4 linked regions of the Homo sapiens genome follow. The protein of the gene in region 1 interacts with the protein of each later gene in a pairwise test. Each region holds a gene or a part of one and is shown on either strand. Other genes may lie near its edges. The genes, in order: ARL6IP5, CLN8, RNF185 and MIEF1.

Region 1 (4,687 bases):
TAAAGACGTCCTTCGCCGGATGAAGAAGCGCTACCCCACGACGTTCGTTATGGTGGTCATGTTGGCGAGCTATTTCCTTATCTCCATGTTTGGAGGAGTCATGGTCTTTGTGTTTGGCATTACTTTTCCTTTGCTGTGTAAGTGAACTTGAGTTTTTTCTTCCATCATCAAAAAAATGTAGAAGCAATTATCCAACGGGAATTCCATAACCCATTTCTTATATGTGTTGGCATGTCAGCAAAAGTGTCAGAATTTTCTAAAACAGCTTTCTACTTGTTATCCAACTAGACCCAGATAACACAGAACTGAGGTCAAGAACTATGAGGTCAAGGCCTTATAGTTCATTAATTCCACAAATATTTGTTGGGGCATCTGCTATGTGTCATACATTCTTTTGTTGTTGTTGAGATGGGGTCTACTCTGTCACCCACGCTGTGGTGTTATCTCGGCTTACTGCAACCTCTGCCTCCTGAATAGCTGGGACCACAGGTGCACACCCAGCTAATTTTTTGTGTTTTGGGTAGAGACCGGGGTTTTACTATGTTGCCCAGGCTGATCTCGGACTCCCAAGCTTGAGTGATCTAGCTTCCTTGGACTCCCCAAGTGCTGGGATTACAGGCGTGAGCCACTTCGCCCAGCTGTGTGCCATACATTCTTATGGGGACACAACAGTAAACAGAACAAAGACAAATCCCAGGTCATACAGCAGGAATGTGGCATAACCTGCACTAGACTCCAGATTTGTCTAATAAGAGAGTCTATTCTCAATTTTTAAGTGCCATTCCTATTGTCCTGACACAGGAATGAATGTATTTATTATTTGGAAGTAGACTATTTATTCTCCACTTGCTCAGGAGATCATAACTAGTGTTAAAAGTTTGGTAAGTCTATAGGAATAATTGGCTCAGAATATAGGTACTAAATACTCAGATTCTGGTGAAGAGATCTAGATATTCTCTAAGTTTTACATGAATTATTTACTAAGACTCCAAACACTTGAAGCCTGAAATAGACAAGAAATAAAATCCCAGCCTAATCAGCAGAAATCTGATTAAAATTCTAGTATATTAAGTGACAGGCACATCCCTTTAACTTTCAATAACATTTGACATGTGCACTTATTCCACTAAATGAAATTATTTGCTTGTTTAGGGCTTTGTTAGATTAAGTCCAGAATATTTATGGATACATCCCATACCCTATTGGATAAAATATCTGAGCCAACAAATTCACACATTTTTGGAATTTTCTTCAGGTTTTCTGTAGGTGCTTAACGCTTAGTATTTCAATGATACTGTTTAATCAAACAGCTTGCTAATTTTAATACCTTTCCACATCAGAACCTGAGACAGGCCAGTGTAACGAAATGTATCAGAGGTAGACAGTTAAGAGTCCTGATTTCTATTCTTAGACCTGCTGGAAACCAGCATGTGATTTGGACCAGTCATCCTATATGGGCTGTAGTTCACTCATCTCTAAAGTAAGGAGATTAGATAAGTGATTCCCAAACGGATAATTGTGACAAGCATTCAGGATACTTTTTAAAAATATACATTTCCCAGCCACATCTTTATTTTGTGGGTCAACAGTGGTACCCAAGGATGTTAGGTTTTTAGAAAGCTCGTCAACTATTTCTAACGGGTGGTCTAGGTTGAGATCCTCCAGATGAATCCACATCAGGGTTTTTCAAAATAAGGGTCCAAGATCCACCTACATCAGAATCATCTGGAGTGATTATTAAAATAATGAATTCTGGAGCCTTCCCTCAGTTGTAACAGTCTGAATTTGGGGTGATGGAGACCAGGAATTTGCCTATTTAACAGGCTCTCCAGGTGATTTGAATGTACATGGAAGTTGTAAAACCACTGGTATAGATCATATGGAGAGAGGGTTACCTGTTTAAAATACAGATTCCCAGGCCTGTCTCTTTAAGGCTCAGGTGGAGGAGGTCCAGGAAAGGGGATAGGGAATCTGTGGTAAAATAATCAAGCAAGTTTGGGGAACGGTAGGCTATAGAAACTCTGTAAAGCCCTTAGATTTTTACATCTAGAATTCTATACCCAACACTTTGGGTAAAGCCTCCGGGAGGCACTTTAAAAGTGGACTTTACTCACGTGCTCCTGCAGGGAACAAGATACAGATAATCCCGAATCGAGCAAGAGTTCTTTTCTGGAAAGCCTCGGGTAAGTTGATTTTTAAGTAGGATGGAATCCCGTTGATTCACTCTGAATTTCAGGACATTTAAGTAGCATCTGCAAGGTGATGATATCAGTGTGTGAAGGAAAGGGTGTGGCTTCCAGATAATGGTCCTTCCTGTTGAATACAGCATTTTCCTTTAATGCAGAAAAAAAACTATGTATGACTTGATGGAGAGCTTTACATAAAGTCCAAGGAGCCATTTGAAAGCTTGCATCAATTCGAGAAGCAGACTGGACTGTGGCTAACTAAGGCAGTTTACTAATAGTGTGAAGAGAGGGAGTGTAATATTGATATGGCAAAAGAGAATTGTTGCTTTGGTGTTAACCAGGTGTCCCTTCTCTGCAGTGATGTTTATCCATGCATCGTTGAGACTTCGGAACCTCAAGAACAAACTGGAGAATAAAATGGAAGGAATAGGTTTGAAGAGGACACCGATGGGCATTGTCCTGGATGCCCTAGAACAGCAGGAAGAAGGCATCAACAGACTCACTGACTATATCAGCAAAGTGAAGGAATAAACATAACTTACCTGAGCTAGGGTTGCAGCAGAAATTGAGTTGCAGCTTGCCCTTGTCCAGACCTATGTTCTGCTTGCGTTTTTGAAACAGGAGGTGCACGTACCACCCAATTATCTATGGCAGCATGCATGTATAGGCCGAACTATTATCAGCTCTGATGTTTCAGAGAGAAGACCTCAGAAACCGAAAGAAAACCACCACCCTCCTATTGTGTCTGAAGTTTCACGTGTGTTTATGAAATCTAATGGGAAATGGATCACACGATTTCTTTAAGGGAATTAAAAAAAATAAAAGAATTACGGCTTTTACAGCAACAATACGATTATCTTATAGGAAAAAAAAAATCATTGTAAAGTATCAAGACAATACGAGTAAATGAAAAGGCTGTTAAAGTAGATGACATCATGTGTTAGCCTGTTCCTAATCCCCTAGAATTGTAATGTGTGGGATATAAATTAGTTTTTATTATTCTCTTAAAAATCAAAGATGATCTCTATCACTTTGCCACCTGTTTGATGTGCAGTGGAAACTGGTTAAGCCAGTTGTTCATACTTCCTTTACAAATATAAAGATAGCTGTTTAGGATATTTTGTTACATTTTTGTAAATTTTTGAAATGCTAGTAATGTGTTTTCACCAGCAAGTATTTGTTGCAAACTTAATGTCATTTTCCTTAAGATGGTTACAGCTATGTAACCTGTATTATTCTGGACGGACTTATTAAAATACAAACAGACAAAAAATAAAACAAAACTTGAGTTCTATTTACCTTGCACATTTTTTGTTGTTACAGTGAAAAAAATGGTCCAAGAAAATGTTTGCCATTTTTGCATTGTTTCGTTTTTAACTGGAACATTTAGAAAGAAGGAAATGAATGTGCATTTTATTAATTCCTTAGGGGCACAAGGAGGACAATAATAGCTGATCTTTTGAAATTTGAAAAACGTCTTTAGATGACCAAGCAAAAAGACTTTAAAAAATGGTAATGAAAATGGAATGCAGCTACTGCAGCTAATAAAAAATTTTAGATAGCAATTGTTACAACCATATGCCTTTATAGCTAGACATTAGAATTATGATAGCATGAGTTTATACATTCTATTATTTTTCCTCCCTTTCTCATGTTTTTATAAATAGGTAATAAAAAATGTTTTGCCTGCCAATTGAATGATTTCGTAGCTGAAGTAGAAACATTTAGGTTTCTGTAGCATTAAATTGTGAAGACAACTGGAGTGGTACTTACTGAAGAAACTCTCTGTATGTCCTAGAATAAGAAGCAATGATGTGCTGCTTCTGATTTTTCTTGCATTTTAAATTCTCAGCCAACCTACAGCCATGATCTTTAGCACAGTGATATCACCATGACTTCACAGACATGGTCTAGAATCTGTACCCTTACCCACATATGAAGAATAAAATTGATTAAAGGTTTTTTTGGTGAGACTTTATTTAATGCACATCTGTCTTAAATACCTGAGAAACTTGGCGACGACCCTATAAACAGTGAAGCAAACACTTCAGCTGTTTCAAATACTGTTTAGTAAAGCTTGAATACTTTATTAACTTGCAGCCAGAATAAAACAATTCCAGTGGGATCCTATTTTTAAACCTGGCACGAGTTTTATATACATGTTAGCCCAGTTTTATATACATGTTAGCCCATTCCATTTTCTACAAGGTGAATTCTGCCGATAAAATCCAATAAATTTGGAGAAACTAATAAAAAAAAAGATACCTGTAATTACTAATGGCCAGTAGTCAATTCTGGAAGGGTAATAACAGAAAAATGTAACATATAAATGTTGTAAATTATGATTACATTTAAAAACAAGCTAAAATCTGCAACTAAGATCTTTAGGGTTGGGTGGTAGAAAAAGCATAATGTGAACTGCTTCACCTCTTTTGGCAAAACCTGTGTATTGAGGCCATAAGCTATGAAATTGGATCATCTTTTCTTCTTGTATATCTAAG
Region 2 (7,684 bases), on another chromosome or scaffold:
CTGCTTTGACGTTAATGCAGGTCAGCTGTGCCTGGATTTCAACGGAAGGCGGGTATAAGGAGCCTGTCCCACCCCCACTTCCCATCACGGTCTGAACTAGTCTCTAAGGTTTACTTTGGAAAGCTCGTGGCTAACGGGGTTGGCGGGGGACTAGAATTTTATTTTTGTTTTACAGTCTCAAAGGAATCGCGATAGGTGCAGGGGCCACTGCAGTGGGACTAGGCTCAACTCTGAGTGTAAGAAGAAAAACGGGAATGTACAGCCACGGAGAGGGTGAGAACGGACGGAAAACTATGAAGAGGCTACATCAGGCCAGGGGGGTTCTTGCTAGAACCACTTGGTAGGATTCGTGCCACAGGCAGGCCAGGTGATAAGATACCGAGGGTGAGGGATGAGGAGTATGATATCAGGGGCGGGGAACTGTCACTGCATTGACCCAGCAGGATTCTTTTGGACGAAAGGGGACAGGGGTCCAGGTCAGAGCCTTGAGGGCTTCGAGGACCCTGCCTGGAGTTAGGTCAGGTAGAGTCTTTGCCACATTGAGGCTGAGAAGCTGAGCAGCTGATCTGCGGGAGTCCAGAGACCCTCATGCTTCCTGCAGATGTGCTGTCAGCAGATCCTGAACTTGGGTTCCAGTGTTTTAAAGTGTTGTTTGCAAGCACCGCGGTCCTGCTCTCCCACTCACAGAACTACTATTGCTCACTGGTGAAGGACACTGGATTTAAAATCACAGACGTTCTTTTTCGCCTCTCGCTCATTATACATCCCTTTGAGGACACCGTCATTTTGCTGTTTAGGAGGAAGAAACAGGCAGAAGAGAACTCCTCCCATCCCTCCGCTAATGGCTTTTAAAACAGTCTTTTTTGTAATGGAACAACCAAACCTCACAATGAGCGTATATTGCTTGTGTGACCAGAAAGTAAGACAGTCCCCTGACACCTCAATTAAGTCATTTTGGTTGTCTACTCCAGACACCTCATGGCATCGTACTTCAAAATTCAGCTTTGTCATTTAGCAGTGTGTGGAGGTGCACACATTGCTAACCTCAGGCTCACTGAACACTGTTTTTTTTCTATGACGTGGATAATGGTGCCTGCGTCAGACACCTGTGATGTTTGAAAGAACCAGTTTATCAAAGTGCTTAGCCTGACGCCTGACACGCTGTGCACCCAAGATAAATGTTTGTTGTGTCATTCGATCTGTCGAGGAAGGAGGTGAGACACTTGTGGGTGGCAGGGCGGGAGGGGAGTACACAGGCTGTAAACAGCAGTGCCCAAGCTGAGACGGAGCAAGCTGGGAATCCGCCCGGGTTTCATTCAGTGTTCCACACCCCGCATGGATACTGGTTATACCTGTGATCAGTTATGCCTGTGATGGTTTTTTAGAAAACAAAACTATTTTATCACTCTGCTTTAAAGATGGCCGAGTGGAAAGACACAGTCCTGGAATGTTTAAATTCAAGCTGAAGAGCTTACTAGCCACGTGACTGAGCAAGTTATGGTTCCATCTTTCTAAGCCTCACTTCATTCTTTGTTAAGACAGGCCTCAGCATGCTGTTAGTAGGAATCTAAGGAACCCAGTGCTGATGGAGAAAGGGGTCCAGTCCAGACCCTAAGAGAGAGTTCTCGGATCTTGCGCAGGGAGGAACTCAAGGCAGTCGCAGAGTGCAGTGAGAGACAGCTGCTCTGATACAGAGTGGGGAGCCCGCGGAAAGCAGGAAGAAGAATGTGCCATCTTTGTTTCAAAGGCATCTTGTATCAATGTAAAAGCCAAGCTACGTGTAAGTGCAGGTGGGCTGGCAGTGTGACAAGATCTAGTACTTGGTGGATGTAAATAACGTTATCCTTGGCATTTCAGTGCGTAACTACATCTAAGCATGACTATAGCCATCTTTTTTTTTTTTTTTTTTTTTTTTTGAGATGGAGTCTTGCTCTGTTGCCCAGGCTGGAGTGCAGTGGCATGATCTCGGCTCACTGCAACCTCCGCCTCCCAGGTTCAGGCAATTCTCCTGCCTCAGCCTCCCACGTAGCTGGGATTACAGGCTACTGTAACTGCCAATCAGGTTCATGTTGCCTACACAGAGCTGATTTATCCAAACAGGTGAACTGCATAGAGAAAGAATAATCCACACAGAGCTGGCTGTGCGGGAGACCAGAGTTTTATTATTACTCAAATCAATTTCCCCAAGAATTCGGAGTTCAGAGTTTTTGCTGTTGTTTTTGAGATGGAGTCTTGCTCTGTTGCCCAGGCTGGAGTGCAGTGGTGCGATTTCAGCACACTGCAACCTCCGCCTTCAGGGTTCAAGCAATTCTCCTGCCTCAGGCTCCCAAGTAGTTGGCATTACAGGCGTGCACCACCACGCCTGGCTAATTTTTGTATTTTTAGTAGAGACGGGGTTTTGCCATGTTGGCCAGGCTGGTCTTGAACTTCTGACCTCAAGTGATCCGCCTGCCTCGGCCTCCCAGAGTCCTGGGATTACAGGTGTGAGCCACCGTGCCCAGCCCTGGAGTTCAGAGTTTTTAAGGATAATTTGGTAGGTAGGGGGCCAGTAAGCTGGGAGCACTGAGGGGTCAGATCAGAGATGAAATCGTATGGATCAAAGCTGTCCTCTTGGCCTGAGCCGGTTGCTGAGTGCGGGCCACAAGATCAGATGAGCCAGTTTATCCATCTGGATGGTCCCAGCTAATTCAGCAAGTGCAAGGTCTGCAAAATATCTCAAGCACTGTTGTTAGGTTTTTCAATAGTGATGTTATCCCCAGGAGCAATTTAGGGAGGGTCAGAATCTTGTAATCTCCAGCTGCATGAATTCTAAACCATAATTTCTAATCTTGTGGCTAATTTGTTAGTCCTACAAAGGCAGTCTAGTCTCCAGACAAGAAAAGGATTTGTTTCGGGAAACCATAAACTAAGTTTCTTCCAAAGTTAGTTTGGCCTACACCCAGGAATGAACAAGGACAGTTTGGAGGTTAAAAGTAGGATGGAGTTGGTTAGGTCAGATCTCTCACTGTCTCAGTTATAATTTTGCAATGGTGGTTTCACTGGTTTTAAGATGGAGTTTATTTTATTTTATTTTTATTTTTTTGAGACAGAGTTTCATTCTTGTTGCCCAGGCTAGAGTGCCATGGCGTGATCTCAGCTCACTGCAACCTCTGCCTCCTGGGTTCAAGCAATTCTGCTTCAGCCTCCTGAGTAGCTGAGATTACAGGTGCCCACCACCACACCCGGCTAATTTTTTTCTCCCAAACTGCTGGGATTACAGGCTTGAGCCACCGCGCCCGCCAAGATGGGTTGTTGATTTTAAAACGATGTCACCCTGGCTCTCCTAGGTTCCTGTTCCCCTAACATCATGAAGGCTGCTGGCAGTTCTCTGGCCTCCAGGGAGGCCTCCACACACATTTACCCATGTTCTTAGACAATCCTAGGGACTCAAGGCTTCAACAAACCTAAATGAGCCAGCAGAAAAATAAACTTGAACATGAATGTCAACGTTTTCCCACATGTACTAAAGGGTTATAATAATTTTGAAATGTTTATTTCAAAGAGCGTTGGTAATTTAAACGTCCTATTTAATCCCCAAAACAGTCCTGAGGGGGAGATAAGGCAGTTATCTTCATAGTACAGGAAAGGAAAAAAGCGAGGGTCCAAGGCCGACTATACCCTCAGCTCCATTAGCCCCCGAGGCCTCCCTGACAGGCGGGGCGGACAATCCCAGTGCAGATGCTCTGTATCGATCGCATGCTATCGGTTCTTTCAAGGAACGTGTATTGATCATCAATTAAGTGGTGAGTACTCCTCTAGATGTCGATTCTAAAGAGGGAACAAAACACATTAGACAGAAGAAACATAAGTAACTCGAATAACAACCTTAGAGAGAAGAAACATAAGTAACTCGAATAACAACCTTAGCAAACTGCGGAAACTCCTACAGACAAAAACTCAGGTGTGGGCGCAGAAGGGCCGGGGATGCGCTCGGTCAAGACTTGAAGGTCCGGGGCTTGGGCCCTGTGTCCTCACCGAGCCCCGGGGAGGCTCCGGCTCCGTCCACACCCGGAGCGCGACTCAGCCGCGGCCGGGGCTCTTCTGGAGAACGGCGCGGTCAGGCTCTGCCGCAGCTTTCAGGTCCCCTCGGCCCCGTCCGGGTGCAGCGCAACCAGGCTGCCCGCGGAGCCCCACCGCCCCCATGCCGCCGCCCGCCATGGTTCAGCCCGGCCCCGCCCCTCCCGCCGGCCGTGGTTCAGCGCGTCCACCCCGCCGCCCCACAGCGCCCGCCGCGCCGCGCCCCGCCCCCCGCCGCGCCCCGCCCCCCGCCGCGCCCCGCCCCCCGCCGCGCCCCGCCCCCCGCCGCGCCCCGCCCCCCGCCGCGCCCCGCCCCCCGCCGCGCCCCGCCCCCCGCCGCGCCCCGCCCCCCGCCGCGCCCCGCCCCCCGCCGCGCCCCGCCCCCCGCCGCGCCCCGCCCCCCGCCGCGCCCCGCCCCCCGCCGCGCCCCGCCCCCCGCGCCGCGCCCCGCCCCCCGCCGCGCCCCTCCCGCGCCCGCCGCCCCGCCCCTCCCGCGCCCGCCGCCGTCGTAGCGCCTAGGCGGGGCCTCTCGTAGCGACGCCCCCAGGGGGGCAGAACGCGTGCGCACGCGCGTGCGAACGCGCGTGCGCGGGCGGTGTTTGAGGCCGGCCAGTCGTGACTGGGCGGCAATGAGGTCAGTGACTGCCGGGAGTCCTGCAGGGGCGGGGCGGCGCCAAGCGCAGGGAGCCCGGCTGAGTGGCAGCCCAGGTGAGCGCTCAGGGAGCCCGGGTGAGGGCCGGGAACCCAGGTGAGGGGCAGCCCAGGTGAGCGCGCGGGGTGCCCGGGTTAGGGGCCGGGAACCCAGGTGAGGGGCAGCCCAGGTGAGCGCGCGTGGAGCCCAGGCGAGGGGGCTGGGAAGCCCGGGTGAGGGGACCGGGGATCCCAGGTGAGGGGCCGGGAACTCAGCTGAGGGGGAACCCAGATGGGCGCGCGGGAGCCCACGTGAGGGGGAGCCCGGGTGAGGGGCCGGGGTGGCTCCTGGCGTCCGCGGTCCCAGCCCTGCCTTCCGGTGGGCGTGCGGCACCCCGGGCCGTGCGGTTCCCGGACAGCAGCTTGTGGGGGACTTTCGAGCCCCGCAGCCCGGGGTCCTGCCTGCGCGGGTTGGGCGTGGGGGGCTCCTCACCGCGACGCTGACTTTGGAGTCCTTGAGCGGCGCGGATGCCGGACGGAGGGAGGGGACAGGCGGAGGCGGAGGCGGCGCCGTCGCCCCTGACCTCGCTTCCCTCAGACCGGCTGGGCAAGTACGGTCAGCTCACCTGTGTGCCCACGAGGCGGGGAGGCGGCTCCTGCAGAGCCACAGAGGTGCCGTCGGAGCTGCTGTCAAGGACAGCAGGTGTCACGTGGGTGTGGCCTCCACTGGTCACCGAGTTAGCTGGGGCGGAAGGGGACAAGGTGCAGCTCAACATGGTGTGGGAGGCGGAGGGACGCTGGGTCAGTCAGAACCTGTAGGAGCGGGGAGGGACGCTGGGTAAGGTCACCAAAGTGTGCGGGGGAGAGAGCGGGCGCTGGGTCAGGTCAGCAGGAGGTGGGACCCGCCTGGGCTCTGGGCCCTATAGCCAGCTGCTCTAGGTTGGGGTTGGGTGTGGACAGTAGGGAGGGGAGCCAGGGGCTCCCCAGCCTGTGTAGATTCTGCTGTAAGTGACTCTTCTCTGAAAGACTGGCGCGAGGCGGCTGCTTCTGACTCCTGTTTCAGTTTACCCTCTGTGTGAAATCTGTAACTATCCAGCTTCTGCTTACCTCACTCCCGTATTTTGATTTTTATTTACATACAACTTTTCAGGAAGGTTGTGAGAGGAAAGAGCAATGGTGCAGGAAGTGTGAGTGATTGAGGGAATATGAGATGGCCACAGCTCCCCACTGAGCTTGAACACTTCTGTGCCTCACTTTCAGATTGGCCGTCATGGAGGCTGTGGTTGTTAAGGAAGTTCTTCCTGAGCATCCAGTTTCCATACAAAGAGCACAGGTTCTCTAGGTGGCCTCAGAGATGTTCAATACACAATGTCTTCTGATAACGAGGAACTGGGCAAAAGCCTGGTAGGACACCGGGTAGGTAAATGGTGGAGTCCCTGCAACCGTGTTGCAGAGGAGGATTAGCTGTTGCTGAGAGAAGAGAAGCAGGCCGGGGAGCAGCTTGTATACTGTTATCCCCTTTTATGTAAAAAGAAGAGTTTATATCTAGAAAAACAATTGACCCAGCAGGCACCAAAAAATAGTGATGGTGCTTGGAGCTGTGTAAGAGGATTGTAAATTTTTATTTTTGTATTTTTATGCTTGTTTATATTTTCTGAATTTTGTGTATTAAACATGTATTTCTGTTGATTTTGGAAAACATTTTTACAACCCATCAATGTATAATTTTCAAAATGTTAGAAGTATAATTCTCATGTAAATAGCTCTTGTCAGGTTATATTTCAGTCATTAATGCAGTATACAGCAGGATAGGAATGTCAGTTCAAAAGAGAATACACAAAACTAGGATTTTCTTAGTGAGTGGGTAACAGGAATGCTGAGAGAAGATTGCCAGATTAGATAATAAGATTGGTGAATATCCTGTGTGCATTGAAACCACAGCCTTTGGGATTGTCTTTTCTTCTTGATGGAAAGGAGAATTAGCTTTGCAGATTGTAAAATGCGTGACCCACAATCAGTGGTAAATAGTTTAGTTATTTCTCCTAGAAAGTCAAGTGATTGTTGGGGTTGTAAAACACTGAACTTGCGTTAGCAGGGAAAAAAGCATGCAACCTTTTTTTTCCCTTTTGACGTCACTTCCAAGTTTGGATAAATTATCTCAATGAAAAACAAAAATGCTGGTATCCATAGCAGTTTAGCCCCCATAAACCGGAGGAGCGCATAGATGCATGACAGAGTCGAAGGGTTCCAGTGGCCACTGAGCCTGGTTCCTGGTCACACTGCAGCAACAGAGCTAACACTCTTACTGATGTGTTTGCATTCAGATTTTTAAAAAACTTCATGGCCCAGTGCAATAGAAGAGCTGAAACCACAGAATCTTATAAGACAAGCTTTTTGTATACATTTTCTCCAAAGAAAATGAAGATCTGCAGCGTCAAGAGATGGTGGCCTTCCAGGAGTTGTTTATTCTCCGGCTCCACTTCCTCTACTGCAGAGAGGAAAGGGGCTGGTGTGGAAGGGCTTGGAAGCCTTCCAGAATGAAAGAACCAGATGAGTCCATTAGGTTCGGCCTCCAGTTTTTTGTTTTTTTTTTTTTTTTTGAGACGGAGCCTCACTCTGTCACCCAGGCTGGAGTGCAGTGGCGCTATCTCAGCTCACTGCACGTTCCGCCTTCCAGGTTCCCGCCATTCTCCTGCCTCAGCCTCCCGAGTAGCTGGGACTACAGGCGCTCGCCATCACGCCTGGCTATTTTTTTTTTGTATTTTAGTAGAGACAAGGTTTCACCATGTTAGCCAGGATGGTCTCGATCTCCTGACCTCGTGATCCTCCCACCTTGGGCTCCCAAAGTGCTGGGATTACAGGTGTGAGCCACCCTGCCCGGCCGATTCGGCCTCCAGTTTTACCCATGGAAGGAACAGTGACTTCCAGCTGTGCATTACACTTAAGGACTCCTTCATGTGGCCTGAGCCTTATGGTGCACAGCAAGGGAACAGTGGGA
Region 3 (7,031 bases), on another chromosome or scaffold:
ATAAATGGGAGGAATGGTCGTTGTTATAAAGCCTGACTTTCCCCTGAGGGTCATTCATTCACCTCCACTTCTCCCCTAGAGTCTTTAAGGGAACTTGCCAGTGGAGATCTGCCATGATTTGGGGTTATTCTCCACTCAGTTTAGAATGACATTGCAAGATTAATGTTGGAGTCAGATGTTATGGCCAGGAAGATTGTGTATTTGGTTTGTGAAGCTAAACTGTGGTTCAGGAATTGGAAAAGGAACTATCCTTTGAGTTCAAAGTGTACTCAGCTAAAGATACTTGGTATGTGAGGTACAGAAGCCATGCCTGCATTTTCCACTGTCCTGGCCTACATAGTAGGTACACAGTAGATATGTGTTAACTAAATAAACGAGAGAAAGAAATTAAAAATGTGGGCCAGACACGGTGGCTCACACCTTTAATCCCAGCACTTTGGGAGGCCAAGGTGGGCGGATCACCTGAGGTCAGGAGTTTGAGACCAGCCTGACTAACACGGTGAAACCCCGTTTCTGCTAAAAATACAAAAAATTAGCTGGGCGTGGTGGCACACACCTATAATCCCAGCTACTCAGGAGGCTGAGACAGGAGAATCGCTTGAACCTGGGAGGTGGAGGTTGCAGTGAGCTGAGTGAGCTGCACTCCAGCTTGGGCAACAAGAACAAAACTTCGTCTCAAAAAAAAAAAAAAAAAAAAGTGGAGTTGAATACTTTTCTTTCAATTCTGTAGATATCATTTTTTTTTTGTATGTGGTGTTAGATTATAGAAAGGGCAATGAACTAGAAGTCAGGAGACTTTTTTTTTTAATCCTGATGCAGTTCATTTTATGTTTCTGAGCTTTGGTTTCCTCATTTGAAAATGGAGAGAGATTGGACAGCAGCTCTCTAAGCTGAAGGTAACCCTTTCTGTCAAGTAGCATCCCCATCCTTTCTATTACTTAAAGATGCTTTTAGAGTAGACCTGAACTTTTAAGCTGCTTCCTGCTAGGAGAGTTCTCAAGGATGAGGACAGCCTGAAGATTTTGTTAAACTGGATCTGGACTACCTGAGAGTCCACACATCCCTTGTGAGCCCGAGGAGACTATGAACCCACTGAAATTGAGTGTAAAATAGTGTGTAGTACATGTGTATGTGAATGCCCCCATCAATTTTTTGCACAGGGTGTCCTTAGCTTTTATTGGATTCCTTCAGATGTTGTAACCTCTCACAGGGTGATTTGTAGAGAAGCTGGGTCTGTGTGGTCTGAGCCCTGGGGATTTCACATATACTGAGATCTCAGGGGCAGAGGCTGGGGTCTTATCTCCATTGCGTTATTTATTTTCTGTGATTTTTACCCCAGTTTTTTTTTAATTTCCGATACCAGTAATCCCTACAGAACCTCAATGGGCATGCAGTGCTCCATAGTTTACTCCTGTTTTCTCATTCTGCTACTACCACTCCACCCATCAAGTGTTTCTGCTAATGAAAACATTTTTCTTCCTTTCCCCTTTTCTCCTTCTCCTTGATGACTGGTTGCCCTGGGGACTCTGGCAGTTGGCCGTGTTTACATCAGGTAAGATGCATTTCATTTTACTTTGTCTTTCATCAGCTCTGGTTGCACAAGAGAGCCCTAGTCTCAGGAGACTGCTTTCAGAAGCTGCAATCTGCCCTGCTTGTGGGCTCATTTGCTTACTTACCCCCACAGCCTTCTTTACATACCTGTCCACTGACAGACACTTGATGAAATCGGGATGGTCCTAATTCTGCCACAGAGGGCCTTTTTGGATCTCAGTTACTCATTTATAAATTGGATTGGATTGATAGTATGTTAGTTAGGTCCTTTTTATTTTTGAGATTCTGCTTCTATTAAAACAGTGCCTCCTATCATATCAACAGTCCCCCAGCCCTTAAAGGTTATGAAAATATTAGGAAGGGGAAAATTTTTTTGGTGTCAACAAAGAGCTTTTGTGAGGAGAGAAAAGTCTATTTTCCTAGCTTTAGCACCTACTTGGTGAGACAGAGCTGGGCCTGGCATTCACAAGTGGCTGTGAATAATCACAGCCTGCTGAAAGTCTCCCTGGTCGTCAGCAGTAGAGTACCACACTCGTAGGTGGCCTGGGAATGTGGGGGAGGACAGAAGTTCCAGACTGCTAAAGCTTCAGAATCTGGATGGGAGAAAGAAGGTGGGAACAGGGCTGCACATTCTGTCCCCAGCGGGACCTGGTAGTACATATTGACTATGAGTTTATGAAGAACACATAACACATTAAGTTTTGGAGCTATGAACAGTAAGAGTAGTAAATAAAATCATTCAGTGCTGCCATCTCCTCAGCCCTGAAGTCCTAGATTCATGTTTATAGAATGTCTATAAAAACACATTTTGGCCGGGTGTGGTGGCTCACACCTATAATTCCAGCACGTAGGGAGGCCAAGGCAGGTGGATCACTTGAGGCAAGGAGTTTGAGAACAGCCTGGCCAATATGGCAAAACCCCGTCTCTACAAAAAATATAAAAATTAGCTGGGCGTGGTGGTGCACGCCTATAGTCCGAGCTACTAGGGAGGCTGAGGCACGAGAATCGCTTGAATCTGGGAGGCAGAGGTTGCAGTGAGCTGAGATTGCACCACTGCACTCCAGCCTGGGTGACATAGTGAGACTCTGTTTCGAGAAAAAAAACCAAAAAACCGAAAAAAAAATCAAAAACAAGCAAAAAACAAACAAAAACAAACCAAAAACATTTTTTATCACTTGTTTTTTTAAGAAAATTAATTTTTTTTTTTTTTTGAGACAGTCTCATTCTGTCGCCCAGGCTAGAGTGCAATGGTGAGATCTCGGCTCACTGGAACCTCCGCCTCCCGGGTTCAAGCGATTCTTGTGCCTCAGCCTCCTGGGTAGCTGGGATTACAGGTGCACACCACCACACCCGGCTAGTTTTTTTGTCTTTTTAGTAGAGACAACGGAGTTTCACCATGTTCCCCACGCTGGTCTTGAACTGCTGACCTCAGGTGATCCACCCGCCTCAGCTTCCCAAAGTGCTGGGATTACAAGCGTGAGCCACCGCGCCTGGCCTAAACAAAAAATTTTAATGTAACCAGTGAAAGGGCCTGAGAAACCCAAAACGGGATTTTTTTTATATTGAAAGAAATAGGTGAATGCAAAAAATCAATGAAAGTACACAAAAAGCATTAAGCAAATTTAGATAATGAGCAAAACCTATCCTTTAGCATGTGGTAAGTCACCAGAAAATGATCAGCTTATCTCCTGATTCTGATGCCTGGGATACACAGTTGTTGGGAAAATGCTATAAAAATGAGAAATTGGCCGGGCGCGGTGGCTCATGCCTGTGATCCCAGCACTTTGGCAGACCAAGGGAGGAAGATCACGAGGTCAGGAGTTTGAGACCAGCCTGGCCAACATGGTGAAACCCTGTCTCTACTAAAAATACAAAAATTAGCTGGGCGCAGTGGTGGGCGCCTGTAATCCCAGCTACTTGGAAGGCTGAGACAGGAGAATTGCTTGAACCCAGGAGGCAGGGGTTGCAGTGACCTGAGATCATGCCACTACACTCCAGCCTGGGTGACAGAGCAAGACTCTGTCTGGGGAAAAAAAAATGAGAAATCACAGAAAGAAGAATATGACTGACAGGAAAATACAGTTGCTCCTACTGGGAAGGTGGGGATTTAAAGTTTGCTGTACTTACACCAGCAGCCTAAATTGAGGCTGGGCATGTCAGACTTGACAGCCCCAGACTTGCAGTTTCCCTCCCCCTGTGTTGCTAGGAGGCCCTAGAGAGAAACAAAGCATGAAGAAGCCTAATTGTGATGATTTTTTTTCTTTTTTTTGAGACAGAGTCTTGCTCTGTTGCCCAGGCTGGAATGCAGTGGTGCAATCTCGGCTCACTGCAACCTCCGCCTCCCGGGTTCAAGCGATTCTCCTCCCTCAGCCTCCCGAGTAGCTGGAACTACAGGCATGCGCCACCATGTCTGGCTAATTTTTGTATTTTTAGTAGAGACGGGGTTTCACCTTGTTGGCCAGGCTTCTCTTGAACTCCTGACCTCAGGTGATCCACCCACCTCCGCCTCCCAAAGCGCTGGGATTACAGGCATGAGCACCGCACCCGGCCAATTATGATGATATTTAAAGGCAATTTTGATTTTACCACTGGTAGGTATTTGCTGAATGGTAGGAGAAGGAATGGGAGTCAGGTTCCTTGAGATGTTCCCTGCTCATGCTGGTGTTTCCCAGTTTGAGGCCTCTGGCCTGTGTTGTTCTGGTGGCTCTGGCTGATCACTCTGGTGGGTCTTGGGCCATCCACATGCATTTTTCTCTCCTGTTTGCAGTGGTTGGAGACCAGACCTAACAGACAGGTGTGTCCTGTTTGCAAAGCTGGCATCAGCCGAGACAAGGTCATCCCCCTCTATGGAAGGGGCAGCACTGGGCAACAGGACCCCAGGTGAGGACTCAGGATGCCTCTCCCAACCACTTCTCCCCTTGGATGTGAATTCACTCCCATTCAGCATCCCCTAACCCCACCCTTTACTTAGTACTAGATGATCTCTTGGTTTCGAAGCAGTCTCATCCAGATGAGAGTCAGCTAGGAGGGGAGGGAAGAGAGGGGATCCAAGTTGCCACTTGCTAGGACCCAGCAGTGAACAGACATCACAATCACAAGTGTGCAGAGCCCTGTGAAAGAGCATTTCTGCAACCTGGGAAGCAGGATATGTAGCAGGAGAGGCTCCAGGGAGCAGGGTTGCTGCATCAGTGATGTATAAAGCATGGCGGGAGGGGAAACAGGATCTGGGTGACTTTGTGGAGTTTGGGATTTCTAGAAATGGAGATGTGCATGGGTCCAGCATTCAACAAACACAAGTATTGAGAGCCCTTCATGGTCTGGCATCCCCAAGCTCTCCAGAAGAATCTCTTACCTTTATCCAGCTACCCTAGCATATGCTGTGTACCCGACATATTAGACTTTCTCTTAAAGGGACTTGCTCTTTCACATTTATCAGCCTGTGTATTTGCTCTCTCTTCTGCCTTCTTCCCTCCCCAGTCCTGCTCAAGCTACCCCTCTACCCCCACCTGCTCCTCTAACTTCTACTCATCTCTTATGAGCAGCCCTAAAGTTCCCTCTTCCTTGAAGTGGTCTGTCTTCTTCACATTAGTTGCTCTCACCCAGTTCCCACCACAGTGTCATATGACTGGCTTTATCCCCCTTGAAACCATGAACACTTCAAGGGTTGGGTCTGTCATCAGTATTACAGCATCCTGCATAATGCTTATTGTATAACTAAGCCCTCAATTGAGTATTCATGGGTTGAGTGATTTGAGGGGGTGAGACTCAAAAATAATAGCATTGGGTATTTGCCCAAGAATAGTAGGAGATAGAGCTGAAGTTAATAGGGGAAGGTCAGAGAAACCATGAACCTCAGCCCTTACTGCTGACAACCCACCCTCTGTTCCAGTATGGATTTGGGATTTCTGTTATCTGTAACAGGCCCAGGGAAGGCATCTGGCCATGATTCCTAACCGATCTGAGTCAGGATCTCTGTAAGAGGAGTAGGCTGTAGTGCAATCTGGTGAATATCTCATAACGAGTTGATTTTCTCCCTGGTTCTCTATACACGTGGGAAGAACAGTTGCAGGTAGAATGAAGAGTTCGTATTTGGAGAATTAATCTGGCATAAGTTCATGTCCTGGACAAGAAAGAGGCTATGGCCCTGACCCTGTTGGTAAAGAGCTCCAGGTCCTCACAGGGAGCAACTCAAAGCAATTTGTAATAGACTTATTTTACACCATTTCTGTTTCAGAGAGAAGACCCCTCCTCGTCCTCAAGGACAGAGGCCAGAGCCGGAGAATAGAGGGGTGAGGAACATTCTAGGAGAAGCTTCTACAAATGAGCTGATGGCTTTAGAAGTTTCCTTCTTAGCCTTACAATTTTTCTCCTTGATTATAAAAGTAAAGGAAAACTTGTAAAATACAGAAAGGAAAAGAGGGGGAAAAAAATCACTTATAACCACACCAATCCAGAGGTAACCACTGGAAACATTTTGGTTCTATTTTCTTTTCCATTTTTCTATAATTATATATACACACAAATTTTACAAATCTGTGCGTGTATTTTACAGATGTGTGTATACTTTTTACAGTTTTTGTTTTTTGTTTTTTACAATATGTGGCTCCTGTTTTGTAACCCTCTCTTAAAATTTCATTTGTTCTACAGATACTTAGTACCTTCTTTGTGTGAGTGGGAGTCTTTTAGTATTATCTTGAGATTTTACATTGCCAGCAATATTTTACTAACTAGCTGTTTAGCATTTAGTTGTGTGGATTTAACATAATTCAATCCTTTGTTAGACATTAGCGGCTTTCTTTTTCCAAGTTAAAAAAAATCCTGATGAACTTACAGATAAATTTGTGAGCATGTTCATTATTATTTTATTAGGATAAGACAGGGTCTCACTCTGTAGCCCAGGCTGGAGTGCAGTGGTGTGATCACAGTTCACTGTAGCCTCGACCTCCTGGGCTCAGTCTACCTCAGCCTCCCATGTAGCTGGGACCACAGGTGCACGGCACCATGCCCAGCTAGTTTTTTGAGTTTTTTTTTGTCTTTCTTTTTTTTGTTTTGTTTTGTTTGGGTAGAAACAAGGTCTCACTATGTTGCCCAGGCTGGTCTCTAACTCCTGGGCTCAAGCAATCCTCCCACCTCAGCCTCCCAAAGTGTTAGGATTACAGGCGTGAACCACTGTACCTGGCTTAGGATAAATTCTTAGAAGTAAGATTACTGGCTAAAAAAAAATTGCACATTTGTCTCTAGTGGTCTAGTGGCTAGGAACAAAAACATTTACATTTTTTGCATATTTACATCAAATGTTACTCTTAAAAAAATTCTGTTAAAATGTTAAAGAAATTTTAAAAGCAAAATATTTACCCACCATTGCCAAGAGCCCAGAACAAGTATATTCTCATATCCTCATGTTCTCTTCATCTGTAGGCTGTGCATATGTATTTTTATGTAGCCATCACCATTCTGTTTGCTTTAAAATTTAATTTTGG
Region 4 (7,031 bases), on another chromosome or scaffold:
TCCTCCCTTCTCAGCCTCCTGAGTAGCTGGGACGCCAGGCATGTACCAATGTGCTCAGCTAATTTTTTATTTATTTATTTTTTTTGTAGAGACGGTCTTGCTATGTTGCCCAGGCTGCTTTCAAACTCTTAGCCTCAAGCGATCCTCCCACCCTTGCCTCCCAAAGCTTTGGGATTATAGGTTCAAACAGCTCTGCCTGTCCAGAAACTGCACTTTGTAGTCTGGAAACTTAAGTCTGATGTGGCCAGCATGGTACCCCTGTAAGGCAAATAGCCAGAGTTGAGGCTGGGCCTGGTCTGGAAGGACGTTGACTCCAAGTTGAGATTGTAATGTATATCTTCTTATGTGGGGACCATCACAGCTCTGTAAACAGAGGAATGACATAGCCACATTTGTATCGTAGAGGGAGCATACCAGTGGCAGTGTGAAGAATAAATTGATGAGAGATACTAGAGGCAGTGGATGTAGCCAGATCAGATTGAGGGACCGAGGGGTGGGGGTGGCCACATATAAACACAGTGTGTACAGCAGTGGGACTTGGTGATCAGTTGGCTGAGGCAGGAGGAGGAGAGAGAAAGATGAAGAGTAACTGGGTGTAAGGCCTGCCAGCTGGGTGGAGGGTGCTGCTTTTAACTGGGGGAGGGAAAGTAGGAAGAGAGCCTTATGTAATGACTTTTGGTTCTTCTCAGCCACTTAGGATTGGCATATCTGCCTTTGGCAGTACAGGGCCAGGGGTGGGGTGATGCCCATGGGAGCCTGTCTGCACAGGGAGGGTTGGCTAGCGGATCTAGGAGGGAATTAGGGCGTTCCTTGAAATCTTTGTGTTCCTAATATATTTTGGCTGTGAGTTGGGCTACACGCTGCTATCACTACCCCCTCAAAAAAACCAAGAAACAAAACGCCGTAGAGTTAATACTTCATTCCCACAACATATACTCCCTATGCATCAAACACTGCACACCCTGGGGATGCAGCAGTGAATGAGCCCAAATGTCCCCCAGAAGCATATGGTCTGGGGGTTAATGGAGTGGAGATGGGAACAAGGTGTGGAGCAAGTACCTAGGACCCCTGTAGATTAGTTCTCCGCACCGCGTGATCTCAGGGTTCAAATCTTGGTCACATACTTTACTGACACAGTGACCTTGGGTCAGTTACAGAAACTACTCAGTTTCTTCATCCTTTAAATTTGGGATAATATTACTGATCTCATGGGATTGTTGTTGTGAGGATTGAGGGAATTAATAATAAGTGTAAAATTGCCAGCACATAATACACACTCAATATCTGCTACCTAGTCTCGTACATACTCAAGCAAGATAGGTTTATAAAAAGGCCTATGGCTTTTTCAATTAAAATAAGTTGGAACTTTCACACTTCTGTGCTGTCATCCTAGGAAGCCGCAAGGCCTCCATTATTCATCATCCTTAACTATATTAGGGTGATGAGCATTTCTGTTCCCATTTTTGTATCTAGCGAGACAGGTTAAATAACTTGCCTGAAATATTGGCAGAGCTGAAATTCTCCATCCCTAGTTCTGCCCACCAGGTCTGTGTTCCTTCTTTGTTTTTTATTTTAACCATCTTAACCATTTTAAAGTGTACAGTTCAGTAGTAGTAAGTATATTCACATTGTTGGGTAACAGAGCCCCAGAACCCTTTTCATCTGGCACATCTGAAACTCTGTACCCATTAAGCAATGGGGTTCCTTCATGACAGTCCCGATTGGAGGTGGAGTTCTTACCTGCTAGTAGGCTGTAAGCTTATGCAGCAGAACCTGAGTGGAGAGCGTGTCATGGAGAAGCAGTTTAAACTGGAACAAGTTGAATTAACTTTTCAAGTAAGGTCCGTGTCTGTCTGTTGAGCTTGTGGATGCCGTCTTCTGTTCCAGGTCACCAGGTCTGTGATGTCAGTCCGTCCTTGGATGGTGGGCGGGGGGTGCCTATTGCACTACAGTAGGAAAAGCCTTTTTTTCTTGAGATGGAGTCTTGCTCTGTCACCCAGGCTGGAGTGCAGTGGGTGCAATCTTGGCTCACTGCAACCTCTGCCTCCCGACTTCAAGCGATTCTCCTGCCTCGGCCTCCCGAGTAGCTGGGACTACAGGCGCCTGCCACCACACCTGGCTAATTTTTTGTGTTTTTAGTAGAGACAGAGGTTCACCGTGTTAGCCAGGATGGTCTCGATCTCCTGACCTCGTGATCTGCCCACCTTGGCCTCCCAAAGTGTTGGGATTACAGGCGTGAGCCACCGTACCCGGCCGAAAAGGCTTAACAAGCTGGCCCAACTTAATAGTTTTGATCTCAGCTGTTGGCTCACGCCTGTAATCCCAGCACTTTGAGAGGCCAGGGTGGGCAGATCACCTGAAGTCAGGAGTTCGAGACCAGCCTGGCCAACATGGTGAAACCCTGTCTCTACTGAAAATACAAAAAATTAGCAGGGTGTGGTGGCTCATGCCTGTAATCCCAGCTACTAGGGAGGCTGAAGCAGGAGAATCACTTGAACCTGGGAGGTGGAGGTTGCAGTGAGCCGGGATTGCCCCACTATACTCCAGCCTGGGTGACAGAGTGATACTCAGTCTCAAAAAAAAAGAAAAAATAGTTTTGATCTCAAGTCCAAGATGGCATCACTGCGAATTTTCAAGGCCGTTTTAGAGCAGTCTCAAAAGGTGCACTGTCACTCAGAGGACAGTCTGGGTTGCTGACTGACTTCTGGAAGCTGACCTTTGTCCTGTGGATGGAAATCTTAAAAGACTAGAGGAGAACTCATTTGTGGAGCACTTTTACAGTTTATAGACCATCCACTGCAATACAGTTTATACCGTTCACATACAGGATTGCAGTGAATGGTTTTTCCTCACTACAACCCTGTGATTTGGTCCCACGCGGGGACCATTATCCCCTTTTCGTAGCTGAGGTGTTAAGTAACTCATTTGAGGTCACCCAGCTAATAAGTCAGGGCTCAAGGCAAGTTCTGTATCTCAGGATTTCTGACTCTAAAACCCACGCTCTGTTCTGTCATCTGTAGCACCACCTTGCTCTCACCAGTCATCAGAAGGGCACCAAGGACTAAAATGGTCCAGGGAGGCTGCTTCTGCCCTGAGTGAGGAGGTGCCCTTCTGGCCCTGCTGCATCACACTCAAGGATCATTTAGAGGGCACATGTGTCCAGTGGCTCTCCCTATTGTAAATATTTCAGTAAAGAGTTAAAACAAGAGACATTGTTATGTGTGGGGAAATGTATAGTGTTCTGCTTTTCTCCTGATTGGGTTATCTTGCCTCTGCTAAGTTTGGTTTGTCCCGTCTCTATCTCAGTGGCCACTGGAGAGAGGGTGTCTGCTGTTCTTCCCTGATTCCACCTGTAAATACAAACGTTATCTCTTCTCCCTGGCTTTGCTCTGTGCATTTGAGGTGGGAATGTACTCGGTTTGGCGAAATAGTCTTTCATGTCCCTAAACCTGAAGCCTCTATTGACTGTAAATGGTAGAGAAAAGGAAAGTACCCCCAAGGTGTGAACTCTAGTTAGGGAAAAAAATATTTTTGGGCTTGACAGTGACTCTTAGTTAACTCAATTACTGGAATAATAGAGTCAGAAATATTTCTTTGTTTTTCAGGGAGGTAGAGGCAGGAGCGTAAGATGTGGAAGCTAGAAATATCCACTTGTAACACGGTATTAGAAGGAATGTTATTTTACATGGAAGATAATCCTCAGTGATCCTTTTTTTTTTTTCTTCAAGACGGAGTCTTGCTCTGTCACCCAGGCTGGAGTGCAATGGTGATTCTCCTGCCTTGGCCTCCCGAGTAGCTGGGATTACAGGCATGCACCATCATGCCTGGCTAATTTTTTGTATTTTTAGTAGAGATGGGGTTTCACTATGTTGGCCAGGCTGGTCTTGAACTTCCGACCTCGTGATCCACCCACCTTGGCCTCCCAAAGTGCTGGGATTACAGGTGTGAGCCACCGCGCCCGGCTGATCCTGTCTCTTGATGTCCTCCCATTCTGGGACGCTAAATGGTATCCGACTTTGTTTTCCCTTATGTCATTCCTGGTGTGAAGGACACGGGATATTATAGAGGAGAGTGGCAGCATGCTGAGTGGTATTCCGATCTGAATCACACTGTCATCCTTTATCCGGCTCAGGCCCAGGGTTCTAACTCCACAGGAATGGGCTTATCTGGGGACTGCTGCTGCTGCAGTCAGGAAGACTCCACTGTAGTCGGGAGCAGCACTGGCCTGAGCACTGCACTGGAGGCCAGCCTCTTCGCTGTGGTGCCCAAGTACTTCTTTCAGGTGAACACATTTTTAGTTCCTCTTCCAGGTGTAATCGAGCAGATGGGTGTTTTGTTTTCCAGTTAGCAGTCGAGTCTGCAGTGTCCTTTGTGTTTTTTATCTCCCGGTATACCAGTCTCACCTAAGCTTTTATAGTCCCCGCTGCGCACTTCTCTCAAGAAACAAAGCATTTGTCAAGTAGGAGGGTCCATGGAGGGACCTTTCTCACATATGGACGTGTAGTTTCAGTTCCGTGTGCAGGATGTTTGGTACATGTTGTTTTGTGTTTTGTTTGCAGAAAGTAGATAGAATAAGGGCCGATTTGATTTGGGTAAGGGTGAGCATGGTACAGTAGAAAAAGCGTCATACAAGGAGTGGGGAGTCCTGAGTTCTGGAGATGACTGTGTCGTTTTGTTTTCGTTTTTGAGACGGAGTTTAGCTCTTGTTACCCAGGCTAGAGTGCAATCGTGTGATCTCGGCTCACTGCAACCTCCGCCTTCCGGGTTCAAGGGATTCTCCTGTCTCAGCCTCCTGAGAAGCTGGGATTACAGGCATGCGCTGTCACATCTGGCTAATTTTATATTTTTAGTAGTGACGGGGTTTCTCCATGTTGGCCAGGCTTGTCTTGAACTCCTGATCTCAGGTGATCCGCCTGCCTCGGCCTCCCAAAGTGCTGGGATTACAGGCGTGAGTCACCGTGCCCGGCCCATTTTGTTTTTTTATTTTTATTTTTAAGAGATGGGGTCTCACTCTGTCACTGAGGCTAGAGTGCAGTGGCGTGATCATAGCTCACTGTAGCCTCAAACTCCTGGGCTCAAGCATTCCTCCTGCCTCAGCCTCCTAAGTAGATAGGACTACAGGCATGTGCCACCATGCTCAATTTATTTTTATCTTTTACTTTTGGAGATGGGGGTCTTGCCATGTTGCTCAGGTTGGTCTTGAACTTCTGGCCACAAGCGATCTTCCCACCTCAGCCTCCCGGGTAGCTAGGATTATAGGCATGAGCCACTGCGCCTGTACCATTTCTTTTCTCTGAGACCTGACACATCACCTCCCTATGTTGAGAACCTCTGTGTGAGGTGATGTGATGGCATTAGATGAGCTCCAAGGTCCCGCTCAGATCTAACCTTCCACAAAGTAGTGGCCAAAGGACGAAGAAATGACCTGCATTATAACCCCTGTGATGGGGTAGAGAGACCTGCTTTATAACCTCTGTGAAGGGGTAGAGAGACCTGCATTATAACCCCTGTGAAGGGGTAGAGACCTGCATTATAACCCCTGTGAAGGGGTAGAGACCTGCTTTATAACCCCTGTGAAGGGGTAGAGACCTGCATTATAACCCCTGTGAAGGGGTAGAGACCTGCATTATAACATTGTGAAGGGGTAGAGACCTGCATTTTAACATTGTAAAGGGGCAGAGAGAGGGCTGTTTTGCATGGTGGGGTACTTCATTGTAATACAAAAAAGGACTGACACTGAGCTTAATGCTTTCTTAATCTCACTAGCTTGGGGAAAGTTTTCCTACAATACCCAAGATCAGCCCCTCCTCCTTGCATCCTGATCTATCATGGGACATTGTAGCTCCCTCCAGACCCTAAAGCATGCAGTGCTGGAGGCAAGAAGATTTGGGTTGCTGGAACTCACAGAGTACCCTGTACTTGTTGGGGTTTGGCTTGTTAGGGGAGGGAGGTTCTTGGGGTCCCAGTACTTATGGCCGTGTTCTGTCTTCATTCTCAGATGAGCAATGGCAGGCGCTGGTGAGCGCAAAGGCAAGAAGGATGACAATGGCATTGGCACGGCCATTGACTTTGTGCTCTCCAATGCCCGGCTGGTGCTGGGGGTGGGTGGAGCGGCCATGCTGGGCATCGCCACGCTGGCAGTTAAGCGGGTAAGTGCATGCAGCCAGGGCTGGGGGTGGAATGTAGTGGTATGGTCATAAGATGTAATGTTTTATAGAAAGAAAATGTCGAAGCGTTCTAGGAGGAAATGATCGCAATGATAAGTGAAAAAAACAGGTTTCAAAAGTATGTATAGAGTGATCGTCATTACATGCATCTAGAAAGAAACATACCAGATATTACAAACAGTTTTCTCTGGGTCATGACGTGGATTATCTATGTCTTATATCATGTAGTCTTCCCTGAGATTTTCTGCGTGGAGCAAAGTATTCTATAATCTAAAATAAAAACAAAATTACTAAAAGAACTTACTAGGACAGAGCTTCTGGGGAGGAAGTAAATTGGAAGGAAATAGGGAAAGAGGGCAGGTTTATGTCCTGTGTCCTCTCTGCTATTTCAGATGTACGATCGGGCGATCAGTGCCCCTACCAGCCCCACCCGCCTGAGCCATTCGGGGAAAAGGAGCTGGGAAGAACCCAACTGGATGGGCTCCCCACGACTGCTGAACAGGGACATGAAGACGGGCCTGAGCCGGTCCTTGCAGACCCTTCCCACAGACTCCTCCACCTTCGACACAGGTGAGAAGGGCTGCTGCCCCTCCTGGGACCTCTCTGGACTTTCAGTACCACTCCTGCACTCAGCAGATGTTTCCTGAGCACATCTGTGCCAGGCACTGTGCCAGCACTTGCCCTCCATGCCAGGCCCTTCTTTCTGGGGCTGAGGCAGCTGTGGACTGAGCAGGCATGGGCAGAGCTCACGTGCCTCTCTCTCTTGCCTTGGCAGATACATTCTGCCCGCCCCGGCCCAAGCCAGTGGCCAGGAAGGGCCAGGTAGACTTGAAGAAGTCACGACTCCGCATGTCCCTGCAGGAG

Evidence for each region.
Region 2: the proteins of ARL6IP5 (region 1) and CLN8 interact in a two-hybrid assay, tested with the Homo sapiens proteins (one study listed by BioGRID).
Region 3: the proteins of ARL6IP5 (region 1) and RNF185 interact in binary tests that used the Homo sapiens proteins (3 or more experiments, as listed by UniProt).
Region 4: the proteins of ARL6IP5 (region 1) and MIEF1 interact in binary tests that used the Homo sapiens proteins (3 or more experiments, as listed by UniProt).

What each region holds. Positions count from the first base shown.
Region 1 is NC_000003.12:69,101,920-69,106,606, forward strand, and holds the end of ARL6IP5 (PRA1 family protein 3), read left to right. Parts: coding exon 1-137; intron 138-2,544; coding exon 2,545-2,717; 3' UTR 2,718-4,173; downstream 4,174-4,687. UniProt on the Homo sapiens protein: Regulates intracellular concentrations of taurine and glutamate. Negatively modulates SLC1A1/EAAC1 glutamate transport activity by decreasing its affinity for glutamate in a PKC activity-dependent manner.
Region 2 is NC_000008.11:1,759,122-1,766,805, forward strand, and holds the start of CLN8 (protein CLN8), read left to right. Parts: upstream 1-4,667; 5' UTR 4,668-4,764; exon of another isoform or gene 4,765-4,877; intron 4,878-5,312; exon of another isoform or gene 5,313-5,463; intron 5,464-7,684. UniProt on the Homo sapiens protein: Could play a role in cell proliferation during neuronal differentiation and in protection against cell death.
Region 3 is NC_000022.11:31,191,151-31,198,181, forward strand, and holds part of RNF185 (E3 ubiquitin-protein ligase RNF185), read left to right. Parts: intron 1-1,533; coding exon 1,534-1,552; intron 1,553-4,318; coding exon 4,319-4,431; intron 4,432-5,785; coding exon 5,786-5,840; exon of another isoform or gene 5,841-6,007; intron 6,008-7,031. UniProt on the Homo sapiens protein: E3 ubiquitin-protein ligase that regulates selective mitochondrial autophagy by mediating 'Lys-63'-linked polyubiquitination of BNIP1.
Region 4 is NC_000022.11:39,505,290-39,512,320, forward strand, and holds part of MIEF1 (mitochondrial dynamics protein MIEF1), read left to right. Parts: intron 1-4,132; exon of another isoform or gene 4,133-4,282; intron 4,283-5,998; 5' UTR 5,999-6,005; coding exon 6,006-6,149; intron 6,150-6,559; coding exon 6,560-6,737; intron 6,738-6,942; coding exon 6,943-7,031. UniProt on the Homo sapiens protein: Mitochondrial outer membrane protein which regulates mitochondrial fission/fusion dynamics.